Linked DNA regions of Homo sapiens. The protein of the gene in region 3 purifies or fractionates together with the protein of the main gene of each other region. This does not show direct contact. Each region holds a gene or a part of one and is shown on either strand. Other genes may lie near its edges.

Region 1 (3,500 bases), on a different chromosome or scaffold from region 3:
AGGCTGGTCTTGAACTCCTAACCTCAGGTGATCCACCTGTCTCAGCCTCCCAAATTGTTGGGATTACAGGCATGAGCCAGTGCGCTTGGCCAATATTTTAAATCAAGAATTTTAAAAGTCTTTATATATTCCTTAAAATAGAGGATTGAGGAGATATTTAGTATAGTGTGAAAATGATTAACATTTGCTTCCTATCTCTAAATATCCTAAAATAGTATTGTTTAGTCTAACCCTTTTATTGGCAGGGTCTCACTGCAGTGGATGTCACTGATGATTCTAGTCTGATTGCTGGAGGTTTTGCAGATTCAACTGTCAGAGTGTGGTCGGTAACACCCAAAAAGCTTCGTAGTGTCAAACAAGCATCAGGTAACTGAGATGACCTTTTGGAATGTGAACTTGCCATTAGTCTATACCAATCTTGATTCCATGGAAAATACACAGGAGATTGTGTTCTTTACAGAAATTCACTTGATTTTACTTTAACTCAAGATTCTAACATTCCCAACAGTGAAAAAAGCTTTGGAGTGACTGGGGTGCTAGACTGGTTTAATTTCTTTAGGTCTCAGTTTTCTCATCTGTAGAATGAGTGAGTATTAAGCTAAAAAACTTAAAGTTAAAAATCTAACATTTTATGATTGCTTGTAAATCTTAAAAAATCTTTAAATAAGGGATGGTACTTCCTGTTTTAGTCATAAAAATGGCTAAAAAGAACAAATAAGGTCAGGATTTTATTTGAAAGTTTTTTACTTTTTGTTTTTTTGAGACAGAGTCTCGCCCTGTCACCCAGGCTAGAGTGCAATGGCGCAGTCTTGGCTCACTACAGCCTCTACCTCCCAGGTTCAAGGGATTTTCTTGTGTCAGCTCCCCAGCTCCCCAGTAGCTGGGATTACAGGTGCCCACCACCATGCCCAGGTAATTTTTGTATTTTTAGTAGAGATAGGGTTTCGCCATGTTGGCCAGGCTGGTCTCGAACTCCTGACCTCAAGTGATCCGCCTGTCTGGCCTCCCAAAGTGCTGGAATTATAGGTGGCTCACTGCAACCTCCACCTCCCTGGTTCAAGCGATTTTCCTGCCTCCACACCCGGCCTGAAATAAAGTTTTTTACTAACTATATTATTTAAATAAAACAATATATTTTAAATTATTTCAATATTTCCATAGGTTTTTTTTTTTTAATTTTAAATTTTTTTTAGATGGGGTCTCACTCTGTTGCCCAGGCTAGAATGCAGTGGTGTGATCACGGCTCACTGCAGCCTCTAATCCCTGGGCTGAAGTGATCCTCCCACTTCAGCCTCCTGAGTAGCTGAGACTACAGGTGTGTGCAACCACACTGGCTAATTTTTTATTTTTTGTAGAGACAGGGTTTCTCCATGTTGTCCAGGCTGGTCTCGAACTCCTCTGGGCTCAAGCAATCTGCCCGCCTTGGCCTACCAAAATTCTGAGACTACAGGTGTGAGCCACCATGCCTGGCCCATAGTTTTCATTTTGTGAAACACTGTGGCATAGTGGGCAAAACTGAGTTTCAGTTCTGGTTCCCACACTGAGTAGCTGTGTGCACTCTAGCAAATTATCTGTTCTGAACGTCATTTTCTTCTCTTACACGCTGAGATGATACTGCCTAATTTAGAGGGATTAGCAAAGTGCGGTTGGTATATAGGAGGAAATTTTCAAATGTTAATTCCTCTCCTGCACTGTGATATGATTACTTTAAAAGTTTTGATGAATGTACTTATAAAATATCAATATTTCTGGACCATTTTAGATCTTAGTCTTATAGACAAAGAATCAGATGATGTCTTAGAAAGAATCATGGATGAGAAAACAGCAAGTGAGTTGAAGATTTTGTATGGTCACAGTGGGCCTGTCTACGGAGCCAGCTTCAGTCCGGATAGGTAAAATACAAACAATAAAAATTAAATACTGCTATGTTATATTGAAATTATATAAAAGTTAACTACTGGAAACATTATGCAAATGCTGGGAAAATTCTGATAAAAATCTCATGGTTGTCTGACGTTCATCATCTTTTAGAATCTTGCCATTTGCTAATTCATCTTTGAATCCTGGTGTTTGTACATGGTAGCAATTTAATGTATACTCACTTTTTTTTTTTTTTTTTTGAGACAGAGTTTCGCTCTTGTTGCCCAGGTTGGAGTGCAATGGCGTGATCTTGGCTTACCGCAACCTCCGCCTCCTGGGTTCAAGCGATTCTCCTGGCTCAGCCTCCTGAGTAGCTGGGATTACAGGCATGCGCCACCACACCTGGCTAATTTTATTTTTTTATTAGAGATGGGGTTTCTCCATGTTGGTCAGGCTGGTCTTGAACTCTCAACCTCAGGTGATCTGCCCACCTCAGCCTCCCAAAGTGCTGGGATTACAGGCGTGAGCCACTGTGCCTGGCCTGTATACTCAAATTTATAGAATCAAAATGCACAGTTTCAGGGCTTACTGGTTTTAAAAATTAGCTTTAGTATTTCCCTTTTTTTTTTTTAATTATTTTTATTTGTTACCCAATGGTAAATAACCAACCAAAGCTTTAGTTTTATAGAACTCCATTAGGGGTTGAATTGCTTCATTGGGTCCCTGCATTGTGTCTTCTGGCTGCTTCATCAAATTTAAGACAAATTCCTGACATTAATGGCATATTAGCTAGTAATTGAGGATTAATCTTTCTATAATCAAAAGTACTAAGAGTAAATGAAAAAGGAAATTCAAAATTGGTTTGCTTCCCTTTAGGTGTATGATTACAATGTCATCCTATGTGTATAGGTATTTGCCTATTTTTCATGATCTCTAACACTGTAAAAATGGGTGGAGGGTGTTTTGTATTCATAATACCATCAGTATATTACTTGGATAGATAATAGCTTTCAGGCCGGGCACAGTGGCTCACGCCTATAATCCCAGCACTTTGGGAGTCCAAGACAGGCGCATCACCTGAGATCAGGAGTTTGAGACCAGCCTGGCCAACATGGGAAATCCTGTCTCCACTAAAAAGTACAAAAATTAGCAGGGTGTGGTGGCGCCCACCTGTAATCCTGGCTACTTGGGAGGCCGAGGCAGGAAAGTCACTTGAACATGGGAGGCAGAGGTTGCAATGAGCCGAGATTGCACCACTGCACTCCAGCCTGGGTGATAAGAGCAAAACTCCATCTCAAAAAAAGAAGAAAAGAAAAAAAGATAATAGCTTTCCATCCATCAAGGTTTCATCATTACGAAACTTTGAGAATTAGGTTTTTTGTTGCTTGATAAGGTTTTGCCAGATGATACATTTTTGAGGGAAACGTCTGATTTCAGTGAAAATTGTAATAACCTTCTGACTATCAATCTTTTGTGTTTATGCTTGAAAAAGGTAGAGAATTATTAGCATGTCTGTAGTTTTTTTTTCTTTTTCTTCAAAAGACATTTCCTTTTTAATTCTTACATAGCTTACACAGCATGGGAAAATAGCATCTTTATTTTAGGGTCAAAAATTGTTGAGTTTTAAGTGACATATCACA
Region 2 (3,500 bases), on a different chromosome or scaffold from region 3:
CACAGCTGAACCCTGGTACCCTCATCAGCCTTCCCCCGTGGCCCAGTACACACCCTCGGAATGTGCTCATGCAGGCCAGGCGCAGTGGCTCACACCTGTAATCCCAGCACTCTGGGAGGCAGAGGCAGGCGGAGCACTTGAGGTCAGGAGTTCGAGACCAACCTGGCCAACAAGGTGAAACCCCGTCACTACTAAAAATACAACAATTAGCTGGGTGTGGTGGTACATGCCTGTATTCCCAGCTGCTCGGGAGGCTGAGGCATGAGAATCACCTGATCCCGGGAGGCGGAGGTTGCAGTAAGCTGAGATTGCGCCACTGCACTCCAGCCTGGGTGATGGAGTGAGACTCTGTCTCGAAAAAAAAGAAAAAAACAAGAACGCGCTTATACAAATAGGCACAGTTGGCGAGAATAAATAGCCAACATCCACATGAACGAGGTCTAATTTCACTCAAAGAAATGCAACTTAAAACTAGACACGATTTTCTTCCTTTAGAATGGTATCCATTCCCAAAAGTCGTATTCTGGCAATGGTTTTAAAAGTGTAATCTGGTGGAAGGTGATATGTATCAAAGCCTTGAAAATGCTCAACCCACCAGACACACACACAGTTAGACATGAAGGCATTCACCTACAGGGGGCCACTTGTCGCCATCAGCACAGCACCCTGGCACAGGGGCCGTTACCAAATGCTGGAGCCTGAGACCACCGAGGGCCAAGGGAAAGTGCACCAGACACAGGACAAGGCAAAGCACAGACTTGGGTCACAGGAGAACTGTAATTACAGAAAAACACAGAAGCAGATATGCAGCAGACACAGGCTGAAGTGAGACACCCCGAAATTTTAGCAGTCTGGGCCAGGTGACGTTACAAGTGACTGTATTTTCTTCTTTACAGTTTACTTCCCAAACTTCCTATAATGAAAAAAAAACTAATTTTATCATCAAAAAAATCATGTTGAAGTAACTAATAATTTTTTACACTTACAGTTACATAAAAAAGCCAATCGAGCCTGCTTCCCGTGTCACCCTTGTTCCTGTCATGATGCTTCTGACACTGACATTCGTAACCTTCTGCAAAGCTCCAAAGCAAGGCAGGCCTGTGCGTTCTGGGCATGCTCTGAGCACCGTGCGTGGCTCCTATGAACACCACGGAGACCACGCTCCTCCGCAGAAGACACAGAACTTCCTTTAAAAACTTTCACAGGTCATTGTCCCACACACTTTACTGCAAAGTCAGAAAATGAAAGGCTGTGTCCCCCGACCCCATGGAACAAGGTGCCCACCTTGCCACCGGCAGCACCTCTGCCCACAGTGTCTGCAGCCCCCAGTGGACCAGCTGACCCACAAAGCCTCTGCCCCAGGTGTGCTTGGGCCACACCCAGCGCCCAGAGAAGGGTTCAGCTCCCTGGCTCCTAGTGTCCTGCCTTGTCCACGCACTGTCCACTCAGACCTCTGACCCCAACCCCGAAACAATTCCCTTGGGAGCCACAGACCTTCTTACTGCAGGGCCCTCATTCTAAAACCTAATGTCAAATTTGATAGACAGAAAAAACTGTTTCTGGGGTTTCCTGACTATTCGGAAATGGTCCCTCCAAGATCCATGTACCCCAACACCACCCTACCTGGCTACGCTCCTCTCACAACTTTGAGATCAAGATGCCACGTGTGCCTTCCTCACATCGGCGCTTTCCAGTGATGCCCAGTGGGGGACACAAAGGGCCCAGCAAGACCTCAGGAAGGACGGACACAGGCCTACACACCAGGCCACAGACAATGGGGCTCGGGGGGCCAACCTCAGCAAGACCTCAGGAAGGACGGACACAGGCCTACACACCAGGCCACAGACAATGGGGCTCGGGGGGCCAACCTCAGCAAGACCTCAGGAAGGACGGACACAGGCCTACACACCAGGCCACAGACAATGGGGCTCGGGGGGCCAACCTCAGCAAGACCTCAGGAAGGACGGACACAGGTCTACACACCAGGCCACAGACAATGGGGCTCGGGGGCCAACCTCAGCAAGACCTCAGGAAGGACGGACACAGGTCTACACACCAGGCCACAGACAATGGGGCTCGGGGGGCCAACCTCAGCAAGACCTCAGGAAGGACGGACACAGGCCTACACACCAGGCCACAGACAATGGGGCTCGGGGGCCAACCTCAGCAAGACCTCAGGAAGGACGGACACAGGTCTACACACCAGGCCACAGACAATGGGGCTCGGGGGCCAACCTCAGCAAGACCTCAGGAAGGACGGACACAGGTCTACACACCAGGCCACAGACAATGGGGCTCGGGGGGCCAACCTCAGCAAGACCTCAGGAAGGACGGACACAGGCCTACACACCAGGCCACAGACAATGGGGCTCGGGGGCCAACCTCAGCAAGACCTCAGGAAGGACGGACACAGGTCTACACACCAGGCCACAGACAATGGGGCTCGGGGGGCCAACCTCAGCAAGACCTCAGGAAGGACGGACACAGGTCTACACACCAGGCCACAGACAATGGGGCTCGGGGGGCCAACCTCAGCAAGACCTCAGGAAGGACGGACACAGGTCTACACACCAGGCCACAGACAATGGGGCTCGGGGGCCAACCTCAGCAAGACCTCAGGAAGGACGGACACAGGTCTACACACCAGGCCACAGACAATGGGGCTCGGGGGCCAACCTCAGCAAGACCTCAGGAAGGACGGACACAGGTCTACACACCAGGCCACAGACAATGGGGCTCGGGGGGCCAACCTCAGCAAGACCTCAGGAAGGACGGACACAGGCCTACACACCAGGCCACAGACAATGGGGCTCGGGGGGCCAACCTCAGCAAGACCTCAGGAAGGACGGACACAGGCCTACACACCAGGCCACAGACAATGGGGCTCGGGGGCCAACCTCAGCAAGACCTCAGGAAGGACGGACACAGGTCTACACACCAGGCCACAGACAATGGGGCTCGGGGGCCAACCTCAGCAAGACCTCAGGAAGGACGGACACAGGTCTACACACCAGGCCACAGACAATGGGGCTCGGGGGCCAACCTCAGCAAGACCTCAGGAAGGACGGACACAGGTCTACACACCAGGCCACAGACAATGGGGCTCGGGGGGCCAACCTCTCCAGTCCCCAAACACAGTCCCCAACAGACAACTTCTCCTGTCCCCACATGCGGCTCCCAACAAACAATTTCTCCTGCCCTCACACGCGGTTCCCAACGACAACTTCTGCTCCACAACATGACACCCACGGTGGGAGAAGCTGGGGGCACTTCACTACATCATCCTGCACACTGCAGCATGGCCTGCTCCAGGCAGAAGGCAGGCCTGGAGAAGAGCCTGGGACCACCGCGGACTGACCAACAGCGGACACCAGGTACTTTCTCAAATGGGAGAGGGGCCTCATGGTGGACAACATGTATCTCTTTGTTTTTCGAAAGCTGTACATCTTTGGTGCAAATGTTCATTTGAGATATGTAAAAATCAAAAGTTTTCACTCAAA
Region 3 (4,222 bases):
CAATTGACAGAAGAGGAAAAACAGTTGGTCAATAAGTGTATGAAAAGTTAGCCTTCAGTAGCAATCAGAAAAATACAAATTAAAACCACATTATCATTATACATTTATTAGAAATGAACAAAAATTAACAAATGACAATGCTAAGTGTTAGAATGGATGTGGAGAGGTGAGAACTTTTATACACTGCTGTTAGGTATGTAAAATGGTACAACTACTTTGGAGAACAATTTAGTAATAGCAAGTGTAGTTGAAAAAGCATATATTGTAAAATCTAGTAATTCCACTCCTAGATGTATACCCTGGAGAATGTGTCCTACATATGCTCAAGGAATCATATACATTATTTATAAGAGGAACAATTTGGGAACAATTTAAATGAACAAACATAGGAACATAGATAAATTGTAGCATAACCATACTGTAGAACACTATAGAGCTATAAAAATAGAATTGAATGCATCAACATAGTTGAATATCATAAACATAAATTTTATCCAGAAAACATTCTGGCTAAGAGTACATACAGTAAGGTCGGGTTTGGTGGCTCTTGCCTGTAATCTCAGCACTTTGGGAGGCCAAAGTGGGAGGATTGCTTGAGGCCAGGAGGAGTTTAAGACCAGCTTGGCTAACATAGTGAGATCCCATCTCTTAAAAAAAAGGAAGGGGGAAAAAAAAAACGAGTACACACAGTAAGATGCCTTTTATACAAAATTGTAAAGCATGACAATGCTATAGATTATTTGGAGAAGCATACATATGCAGTTCATGTATAAAGAGATTTACAGAGGCTGGGTGCAGTGGCTCACGCCTGTAATCCCAGCACTTTCGGAGACAGAGACGGGCTGACCATCTGAGGTCAGGAGTTTAAGACTAGCCTGGCCAATATGGTGAAATCTTGTCTCCACTAAAAATACAAAAAATTAGCCAGGCATGGTGGCTCATGCCTGTAATCCCAGCTACTGTGGAGGCTGAGGCAGGAATCTCTTGAACTCCTGAGGTGGAGGTTTCAGTGAGCCGAGATTGTGCCACTGCACGCCAGCCTGGGGCGACAGAGCAAGACTTTGTCTCAAAAACCAGCAAACAGGCTGGGCGCGGTGGCTTACGCCTGTAATCCCAGCACTTTGGGAGGCCGAGGCAGGCGGTTCACGAGGTCAGGAGATCGAGAGGCTAACATGGTGAAACCCCGTCTCTACTGAAAATACAAAAAAAAAAAAATTAGCCAGGCGTGGTGGCGAGCGCCTGTAGTCCCAGCTACTCAGGAGGCTGAGGCAGGAGAATGGCGTGAACCCAGAAGGCAGAGCTTGCAGTGAGCCAAGATCGCGCCACTGCACTCCAGCCTGGGCGACGTTGCGAGACTCCGTCTCAAAAAAAAAAAAAAAAAAAAGTTTTGCGGGTTTTTCCCCCCGCCCCTTTGCCCCCTCCCCCCGCCTTTATTCAGCTTCCGGTAGACGCTGGTAGGGTAAGGGAGCTAAGTAGATCACTTCCGGGCGACTGTTGTTTTATTTCCGGTTTATGCGACCCGGCTGCGATTTGCTGCTGAGGGCAGCAGCTACCGTCACTGCCGCCATCATGTCAGACTCGGACAGCGAGGAAGATTCATCTGGAGGTGGCCCATTTACTTTAGCGGGTATCCTTTTCGGCAACATCAGTGGAGCGGGGCAGCTGGAGGGGGAAAGCGTCTTGGATGATGAGTGTAAGAAGCACTTGGCAGGCTTGGGGGCTTTGGGGCTGGGCAGCCTAATCACTGAACTCACGGCAAATGAAGAATTGACTGGGACTGGCGGTGCCTTGGTAAATGATGAAGGGTGGATTAGGAGTACAGAAGATGCTGTAGACTATTCAGACATCAATGAGGTGGCAGAAGATGAAAGCCAAAGACACCAGCAGACGATGGGGAGCTTGCAGCCCCTTTACCACTCGGATTATGATGAAGATGACTATGATGCTGATTGTGAAGACATTGATTGCAAGTTGATGCCTCCTCCACCTCCACCCCCGGGACCAATGAAGAAGGATAAGGACCAAGATGCTATTACCTGTGTGTCTGAAAGTGGAGAAGACATCATCTTGCCCTCCATCATTGCCCCTTCCTTTTTGGCCTCAGAGAAAGTGGATTTCAGTAGTTACTCTGATTCAGAATCTGAGATGGGACCTCAGGAAGCAACACAGGCAGAATCTGAGGATGGAAAGCTGACCCTTCCATTGGCTGGGATTATGCAGCATGATGCCACCAAGCTGTTGCCAAGTGTCACCGAACTTTTTCCAGAATTTCGACCTGGAAAAGTGTTACGCTTCCTACATCTTTTTGGACCAGGGAAGAATGTCCCATCTGTTTGGCGGAGTGCTCGGAGAAAGAGGAAGAAGCATCGTGAGCTGATACAGGAAGAGCAGATCCAGGAGGTGGAATGCTCAGTAGAATCAGAAGTCAGCCAGAAGTCTTTGTGGAACTATGACTATGCTCCACCACCACCCCCAGAGCAGTGTCTCGCTGATGATGAAATCACGATGATGGTTCCTGTGGAGTCCAAATTTTCCCAATCAACTGGAGATGTAGATAAAGTGACAGATACCAAACCAAGAGTGGCTGAGTGGCGTTATGGGCCTGCCCGACTGTGGTATGATATGCTGGGTGTCTCCGAAGATGGCAGTGGGTTTGACTATGGCTTCAAACTGAGAAAGACACAACATGAACCTGTGATAAAATCTAGAATGATGGAGGAATTTAGGAAACTTGAGGAAAGCAATGGCACTGATCTTCTGGCTGACGAAAACTTCCTGATGGTGACACAGCTGCATTGGGAGGATTCTATCATCTGGGATGGGGAGGATATCAAACACAAAGGGACAAAACCTCAGGGTGCAAGCCTGGCAGGCTGGCTTCCTTCTATTAAGACTAGGAATGTAATGGCTTACAATGTTCAGCAAGGTTTTGCACCCACTCTGGATGATGACAAACCTTGGTACTCCATTTTTCCCATTGACAATGAGGATCTGGTGTATGGACGCTGGGAGGACAATATCATTTGGGATGCTCAGGCCATGCCCCGGCTGTTGGAACCTCCTGTTTTGGCACTTGATCCCAATGATGAGAACCTCATTTTGGAAATTCCTGATGAGAAGGAAGAGGCCACCTCTAACTCCCCCTCCAAGGAGAGTAAGAAGGAATCATCTCTGAAGAAGAGTCGAATTCTCTTGGGCAAAACAGGTGTCATCAGGGAGGAACCACAGCAGAACATGTCTCAGCCAGAAGTGAAAGATCCATGGAATCTCTCCAATGATGAGTATTATTTCCCCAAGCAACAGGGTCTTCGGGGCACCTTTGGAGGGAATATTATCCAGCATTCAATTCCTGCTATGGAATTATGGCAGCCCTTCTTTCCCACCCACATGGGGCCCATCAAAATCCGGCAGTTCCATCGCCCACCTCTGAAAAAGTACTCATTTGGTGCACTCTCTCAGCCAGGTCCCCATTCAGTCCAACCTTTGCTAAAGCACATCAAAAAAAAGGCCAAGATGAGAGAACAAGAGAGGCAAGCCTCAGGTGGTGGAGAGTTGTTTTTTATGCGCACACCTCAGGATCTCACAGGCAAAGATGGAGATCTTATTCTTGCAGAATATAGTGAGGAAAATGGACCCTTAATGATGCAGGTTGGCATGGCAACCAAGATAAAGAACTATTATAAACGGAAACCTGGCAAAGATCCTGGAGCACCAGATTGTAAATATGGGGAAACTGTTTACTGCCATACATCTCCTTTCTTGGGCTCTCTCCATCCTGGCCAATTACTGCAGGCACTTGAGAACAACCTTTTTCGTGCTCCAGTGTATCTTCATAAGATGCCAGAAACTGATTTTCTGATCATTCGGACAAGACAGGGTTACTATATTCGGGAATTAGTGGATATTTTTGTGGTTGGCCAGCAGTGTCCCTTGTTTGAAGTTCCTGGGCCTAACTCCAGAAGGGCCAATATGCATATTCGAGACTTTCTACAGGTTTTTATTTACCGCCTTTTCTGGAAGAGTAAAGATCGGCCACGGAGGATACGAATGGAAGATATAAAAAAAGCCTTTCCTTCCCATTCAGAAAGCAGCATCCGGAAGAGGCTAAAGCTCTGCGCTGACTTCAAACGCACAGGGATGGATTCAAACTGGTGGGTGCTTAAGTCTGATTTTCGTTTACCAACGGAAGAAGAGATCAGAGCTAAGGTGTCACCAGAGCAGT

Evidence for each region. Proteins that work in one complex are often made in the same cells at the same time.
Region 1: the proteins of TAF1L (region 3) and TAF5 fractionate together in Homo sapiens (co-fractionation; one large-scale study listed by BioGRID). This does not show direct contact.
Region 2: the proteins of TAF1L (region 3) and TAF4 fractionate together in Homo sapiens (co-fractionation; one large-scale study listed by BioGRID). This does not show direct contact.

The regions. Positions count from the first base shown.
Region 1 is NC_000010.11:103,381,476-103,384,975, forward strand, and holds part of TAF5 (transcription initiation factor TFIID subunit 5), read left to right. Parts: intron 1-245; coding exon 246-366; intron 367-1,762; coding exon 1,763-1,892; intron 1,893-3,500. UniProt on the Homo sapiens protein: The TFIID basal transcription factor complex plays a major role in the initiation of RNA polymerase II (Pol II)-dependent transcription.
Region 2 is NC_000020.11:62,055,882-62,059,381, forward strand, and holds part of TAF4 (transcription initiation factor TFIID subunit 4), read right to left. Parts: intron 1-3,500. UniProt on the Homo sapiens protein: The TFIID basal transcription factor complex plays a major role in the initiation of RNA polymerase II (Pol II)-dependent transcription.
Region 3 is NC_000009.12:32,632,870-32,637,091, reverse strand, and holds the start of TAF1L (transcription initiation factor TFIID subunit 1-like), read left to right. Parts: upstream 1-1,422; 5' UTR 1,423-1,512; coding exon 1,513-4,222. UniProt on the Homo sapiens protein: May act as a functional substitute for TAF1/TAFII250 during male meiosis, when sex chromosomes are transcriptionally silenced.